Linked DNA regions of Homo sapiens. The protein of the gene in region 1 interacts with the protein of each later gene in a pairwise test. Each region holds a gene or a part of one and is shown in the gene's direction. Other genes may lie near its edges.

Region 1 (3,751 bases):
ACCATCCCAAGGCATTTGACTTGTCACCTCTCTTGGAAGAGCCGGGGTAGATGAGGCAGATGTTCTGGGCAGAGGGCAGGACAACAGTTTGGGGTCTGGTCTGCTCTCTTCTCAGGCTGGGCTGTGGAGGGGGTGGGAAGGTGGGCAGTGCATATCTCAGGCAGCCAGGCCTTTATTACATTTGCAAAGCTAGTCTGCAGATGCAGCACAAGATAAAGAGCTCTGTCCAGAGCCACCCACCACACTGCTGATTGCCCTGGCAGACACGTGCCTGCCAGATAACATCTTTAATATCCAGGGGGAAATGAATTCCCCTGCTTGGTCTGCCCATTTGGCCTAGCCTCTCATCACAATCCGTTTATCTCACAGAGCTGCCTCCCCCCCGTAGAGAGGAGAAATTATTGTTCTGCCACTGAGTTTTCTGCCACAGCTGAGAACACACTGTCAAAGTGGCAGGGCGTGCTGTCGGTCACGCCTTCTTTTCTTCCTTCCTCCATTCAGCTTTTATGGATGCTTTTGCATTAGAGCTGTGCCAGGCACAGGGGACCTGGGATGAATCAGGAGTGAACCCCATCCTGGAAGAGTGGGCAGTCCAGTGGTGTAGACAGAGTAGAAAGCAAATAATCACAGAACAGAGTGTAATGGGTCTGGTGCGGTGGCTCACGCCTGTAATCCCAGCACTTTGGGAGACTGAGGCAAGCAGATTACTTGAGGTGAGGAGTTCGAGACCAGCCTGACCAACATGTAGAAATCCGGTATCTACTGAAAATACAAAAAGTAGCCAGGCGTGGGGGTGCAAGCCTGTAATTCCAGCTACTCCGGAGGCTGAGGCAGGAGAATTGCTTGAACCCAGGGGCGGGGGAGGAGGTTGCAGTGAGCCGAGATCGCACCACTGCATTCCAGCATGGGCGAAAAGAGCGAAACTCCGTCTAAAAAAAAAAAAAAAGTATAATGGAGGCAATAGAGCCACAGGAGCAAAGCAGGGTGAAAAGCTTAATTTCACCAAGGTGGTGATCTGGGAAGGTTTCCAGAGGAAATTTTTATTTCCTCCAAAATAAAGTGTATATATATATATATACTTTATATATATATAAATATATTTTTTGTTGTTGTTGTTTTTGTTTATTTGTTTTGAGAGGAGGCCTCACTCTGTTGCCCAAGCTGGAGTACAGTGGCGAGATCTCGGCTCACTGCAACCTCTGCCTCCTGGGTTCAAGCAATTCTCCTGCCTCAGCCTCCCGAGTAGCTGGGATTACAGGCGTGCACCACCATGCCCAGCTAATTTTTGTACTTTTAGTAGAGACGGAGTTTCGCCAGGTTGGCCTGGGTGGCCTCGATATCCTGACTTCTGTTGCCCAGAGTGATCATGGCTCACTGCAGCCTCGACGACCTGGGCTCAAGTGATCCTCCCATCTCAGCCCCCAGAGTATCTGTGACTACAGTCACGTGCCACCACGGCCGGCCTCCTGTATTCTTATATGTATACAATATCTCACAATTAAAGGGTAAATAAATATAAGATCTAGTCAAGGGTATTGGGAGGACTGGCCTAGATATTTCTTTCACTAAACTAAATTTTAACTCTTAAGAAATGTTCACAATAAAATTGTTATCATAGTCCATAAAATCGGTCTTTTTAGTTGCCACAATTATAAGAAGTTGCATACAATTACAAGAGTAAAACAGAATTATAAGACAGCACGTTAGGTTTAAGATTTATGGCCGGGTGCGGCGGCTCACGCACTTTGGGAGCCCGAGGCGGGCGGATCGCACTTTGAGAGACCAGGAGAGCGGGACCCAGTCTCTACAAAATAAAAATAAAAATAAAATGTGGGGAGAGCGTGACGTTTTCCAGGTACAGAGGGGAGGTCCAGGCAGAAGCGCAGGTAGAAAGTGTGAATATGCTGAGCGTATTCCGGGAGCAGCAAGTTAAGCCGGTGTGACCGGAGGGAAATGGAGGCCTGGCTGCCGGACGGTGAGGGTGACTGCGCGAGCGTCCGCCCAAGAAGTCTCCCTGCCTTCCCGCCTTTCCCCTGTCTTGGGCCCCTTCTTGCTTTCCTTTCGCGCTCTGTGCTGACTCCGCCCCTCCGGCGGCGCCCGTGGCCCCGCCCCTGAGGGAAACAGACAAGGGGCGGGGCCGGCGCGGTCATCTCTCTGCGCCTTCCCGCAGGGCGCCGAGCACCTGGCGCCGCCTGCCTGACGTCACGGTCACTGACAGCGTGAGCCCGCGGCGGCTGCTGCCATGGTGGCTGGCGGCCGGGTAAGGGTCTGAGTGGATCTCCTGCCAGGCCAGAGCGCCTTCGGGGGCCGCGGCGGAAGGCCAGGAGTTTGCAGCCAGGGCGCCGGGTTTGTGGTCTGCAGTGTCGTGAGGCTGAGGTGGGGGTTGAAGGCCCAGAAGCCGGACTCTGTGACCCGGGTCGGGGGGTGTACTGGAGGGGCGGCTACGTCCAGGCTGGGTGAGAAGAGAGGCAGTGGGGCCCAGGAGGCTGGAGGAAGCCTTAGGGTTCAGACTGGGGTGCACGTAGTCGAGAGCTCAGGGTTTGGGCAAGGGGATACCTGCCGGGGTTCAGCCTTGAGGGTGGGTTTACCGGGTTCACGAATCTCTCTCTCTCCTTACCCCCGCCCGCCCGCCCGCCTGCCTGCTCCCGGTGACTTCTGCTGGCCGCAGGTGCAGCATGTCTAGACTGGGAGCCCTGGGTGGTGCCCGTGCCGGGCTGGGACTGTTGCTGGGTACCGCCGCCGGCCTTGGATTCCTGTGCCTCCTTTACAGCCAGCGATGGAAACGGACCCAGCGTCATGGCCGCAGCCAGAGCCTGCCCAACTCCCTGGACTATACGCAGACTTCAGATCCCGGACGCCACGGTAGGAGCCCGTCTCCTGAGACCGCGGTCACTGCAGACTAATGGGCCTGAGGTCTGGGCTGCTTTCGGTGGAGACTGTGGGACAGGGTAACGGAGAGAAGTGCTTTAGGGTTTCACTTTTTTGGAAGCTTGTTGAAAAAGCAGTCGTCGGGCTGGGCGCGGTGGCTCACGCCTGTAATCCCAGCACTTTGGGAGGCCGAGGCGGGCGGATCACCTGAGGTCAGGAGTTCAAGACCAGCCTGGCCAACGTTCAACCAGATGTCAACATGGTGAAACCCCATCTCTACTAAAAATACAAAAATTAGCCGGGCGTGGTGGCGCGGCCTGTAGTCCCAGCTACTGGGGAGGCTGAGGCACGAGAATCGCTTGAACCTGGTAGGCGGAGGCCGCAGTGAGCTGAGGTTGCGCCACTGCACTCCAGCCTGGGTGACAGAGTGGGACTCTGTCTCAAAAAAAAAAAAAAAAAAAAAGCAGTCGTGGTTTTCTCTACTCTTTCGCCTGTACTCACAAGAAAGTATATTTCAAAAAGACTGTTTAACTTTCACTTTTAGTTCTGGCCACAATAGTGCTATGTGGGTATTAAAGGCACTTGCTTAGTGTTGGGTGAGGTGTGTAATAAGTAGAGGAAGAGTCCAAAAGAGGGCAAAAAGAATAATCTTGTAGGGATTAAAAGTCTTGAGGCTTATGTATTAAATCATATATTAGAATTTGAAGACAACTTGGCAACTATCAAGACAACTTGGCAACTATCTCATTCAAGTTTTTTTTTCTTTTTATCCCTCCTATGAGGAAACCAAGATTCAAAAAGATGGTATAACTTTCCTGAGGCTGTCACAGATTAAGTGGCAAGGTTGGGCCTGGTCACCTGGTCCAGTGGACTTTCTACGGCA
Region 2 (3,751 bases), on another chromosome or scaffold:
TGACTGTTCAGTAACAAGCTTGAAGATTACTTTGCTTCAGCCCATTAAACCTTGACAAACCAGTTATTAACTACGGCTAGAGCCAATGGCCTGTGGGGATTATTGCAATTATGAGCCATCTATGTAATTTTTAAAAATTAGGCGAGACAAGGTGAGTCTGATGATGGCGGGGCTGATGGCTGACAGTCTCTGCTATTTTGTAGTACACAAGGCAATAAACAGCTGTAGGGAGAACTAATCAGTCAGCAAAAGCCCTTTGCTGGGAAGATGTAGTAAGAGCAATAAAGGTTATTGCTCTCAAACAACAAACCATGTCTGGGAAGGAAAGGGCAAGGTTTTTCTTTAACTTCTATTTTGGAGGCTGGAGGTCTTTTCTCAAAGGAGGATTAGAGGGAAGTAGAGGGAGCACATCAAATAAAGGGAAAAGCCAGGCAGGACTCTCATGGCTTACATTGCATCCCTATGCTTTATTGGATTGTAGCACTGAGGACGCCCATTGGAAGGTACCTGCCCTTTCTCCTTTCTGCTCCCTGTTATTTCTTACAGGGATTTCAAGCTCAGGTGGATAATATATATTAATAGAGAAAAAGGAAAGGGTAAAGATGCTGATTAAATTATAAGTCAAATAAAAACACATCTGTGGGCCAGATCGCAACATCTAGTTTATAAACAAAAGTCCATGTCCTCAGTCTGGATTATGAGACTCTTTGAATCTGACCCGCACTGCTTCAGCCTGATTCTCTTGTATTCTCCTCTTTTGAATCCTTATACCCAGTCTAATTAAGGTGTTCTCCAGATGTGCCTGCCCCACACTTTCTAGTCTCTATGTCTTTTCTACCCCAGGAATGGCTTCTCCTTTGAAATTGATTTCTACATGTTCAAATCATATCCCCTCTCTGAGTCGCAGAAGGGGTGAATTAAATCAACTTTAAGATCTCTTTTTCCTCTAAAGTTTTGTGAGTCTGTGGCATTTTCACCCATGATGGTTAGCATGTCTGTGAATCTAGCTGCATTCTGGGACCTTAACACAGTGTACTATTTTGCATTCTCTAGGTGGGCACATTGCTGGGAGTCTTGCTGTTGTCACAGATGCTGCCCACCTCTTAATTGACCTGACCAGTTTCCTGCTCAGTCTCTTCTCCCTGTGGTTGTCATCGAAGCCTCCCTCTAAGCGGCTGACATTTGGATGGCACCGAGCAGGTACGGTTCATAGAGTGAGCAATAACAGCAGGCTGGTGCTGCAAAGTCAAACCAAGGGTAAAAGTGGAAGACACGAAGCAAAGCCTTGTTGGAAAGTCCTTAGAGACACATTTCTGATGCACAGGATAAAACAAATGTGTATGTGGGAATGTGTGTTTTCAATATTAATTCAGATAACAGACAGATTAATGGTGCTATCTCTAGTCCTCTGGGACAACAGGAACACGTGTATCACTTCAGCAACTGCCCCAGCCTCAGGGACTCTGTGTATGGTGACAGACATAACGCAATTCATTAAATTACTCTGCATCCCTGGAAGAGAGGATAGGAGTAAAGCTTCTGCCATATTGCAAAATGAGGCACAGAGCACCCAAGAGAGTTATAGAGATTGAAGAACTTCTTATAGAGGATTCAGGAATAGAATATAGGCTTTCCTGCTCACACACAGCATTTAGCCATTCAGCCATTGGTCCAATTGAATATCTTGCTCGCTCAATCAACAATAATGCAAAAAAGGAGGAGGAGAAGGAAGAGGAGAAGATGAAAGTTTACTTTTTCTCCTTTCTTGCGCTGGTTCCTTCACTGAATAACTGCTTACTCTTGTATAGGCAGTAGCCAAGGTCATGATAAGGGGTGTGTGTGTGTGTGTGTGTGTGTGTGTGTGTATTCATTCTTTATTGCTCAGTTGACTGTTGTAACAGGAGGAAAGCAAACACGTGCTGAAACATGTGCCTGAGCCTTGCCTGCCATTTATTAAATGTGGTTCACGTGTGCTTCCTTAAATAATTTCACAATAGACAAATGAATCCACTCTGATTAAGAAAGGGAGAGAAGAAGTCTAGTGCAAATTCCAGCCTTCTCAACTCATAATTATAGGGATTTCAAATAACATGTATGCACTAAAACAGACATAAATAACTTAACCAAGTAGCATAAACAACTTGGAGGTCTCTAAATTTGGTATATAACACATTTGACTGTATGCTTTTTTAAATTTTAATTTTAATTTTAATAAGTTCTGGGGTACATGTGCAGGATGTGTAGGTTTGTTACATAGGTCAACGTGTGCCGTCATGGTTTGCTGCACCTATCAACCCATCATCTAGGTATTGATAAGGGTTTTTACTTTGACTCATTTTTACAGTCCCTCCCTAACCCACCCCCACAACCCCCACACTCTGCAACTTCAATTCTTCTCCTCTGTGTTATTCCTTCTATCAGCTGGAGGAGGTTCCGGCTGAATATTTTGTGCAAATCATGTGAACAAATAGCCACAATTCCACATTTTCACACTGGTTGAGAACATCCATGTAGAGGAAATTGGAGAGCTGAGCAAGGGTGGCCAGCCTTCACTGAAAGGGCTGCTAGACACATATCACAGCTTATAGACTGATAACTGTGGACTGCGGCTTTTCAAGTTTAGAATGGCAGGAAGTCCTAATTTCATACTAAACAAACACTTGATCATCGCAGGTGTTTTGACTTGCTTCCCTTTAACATTCAGGAGATGAGGCAATAAACAGCAGTAAAGAGAGTTTGTGACAACGTGATCTGAGAATGTTTTTGCTGGTGCTTGAACAGCGCTACACTTGGAAAACATGGACCTGTAGCTAAGCACCCATTATTTGTCTGTGTAAAGTTTTACATGTACTTGACCCTTTCTGATACCATTTGTCAAAGCAGTTTTGTAAACCTAGGATGATTTGAAAATGTAGGGTGAACTCAGAATTTAGATCTCTGCTTGTACTTTGGCATCGTGGCCATGGAAGACCCTGAGCTATTAATAGAACTCTCTGCTGCGAGGGCAATATTCTGTAATATACAGTAAAATGTAGCTATTGAGCACTTTAAATGCAGCTAGTGCTACTGAAGAACCAGATTTTAAAATTTACTTAATTTCATTTTAAGCAGCCATGCATGATTGGTGGCTACCATATTAAACAGCACCTCTATAGATACAGAGGTGAGTCCAACACATTCATACGCAACACACCCATAATCTGGCCAGCCCAATGAGCCCAGCTAAGCTAACTTATTTCTTTTTTAAGCAATCATTGTAACATTTACCAATGATCCTCATGTGCCTCCTGTTCTAACTAGTTACTTTTGGATTTCTGACTCTTTGTTTTGTCTTAAGATCTGACTCCTGACTCTTGCTCTTGGTATTGAGCTTTACCTCGCCAGCTCTTTTCCCACTGTGCTTCCTAATCATGGGTTTTGAGTTAGACACACTCCACTTTCATACCCTGTTTTGGATTTTCATGGATAGGAAGCACACTACCTGACATCCACAGACTCAACCTCCATTTCCGGCTAACCAGAAATTCTTGGGCTTGGTCCTCATAAACTTCTGCAAAGGGGAGTCGTAAGTAGCCTGAGTAGACTAATAAAATAACAATTTCTTGAGTGTTTGCTATATGTTATATTAGGTTCCTAGGGCTGCCTTAATAATGTACTACAAATTGGGTACAGTATTTTGGGGGGTACATTATTAATTTTCATAACAAATTATGAAGGTTGTCTATGAATGAGGTCGGGGAAATAATTGCCA

The links. Proteins that work in one complex are often made in the same cells at the same time.
Region 2: the proteins of RMDN3 (region 1) and SLC30A8 interact in binary tests that used the Homo sapiens proteins (3 or more experiments, as listed by UniProt).

What each region holds. Positions count from the first base shown.
Region 1 is NC_000015.10:40,753,708-40,757,458, reverse strand, and holds the start of RMDN3 (regulator of microtubule dynamics protein 3), read left to right. Parts: upstream 1-2,204; 5' UTR 2,205-2,376; intron 2,377-2,668; 5' UTR 2,669-2,675; coding exon 2,676-2,862; intron 2,863-3,751.
Region 2 is NC_000008.11:117,151,891-117,155,641, forward strand, and holds part of SLC30A8 (proton-coupled zinc antiporter SLC30A8), read left to right. Parts: intron 1-1,053; coding exon 1,054-1,200; intron 1,201-3,751. UniProt on the Homo sapiens protein: Proton-coupled zinc ion antiporter mediating the entry of zinc into the lumen of pancreatic beta cell secretory granules, thereby regulating insulin secretion.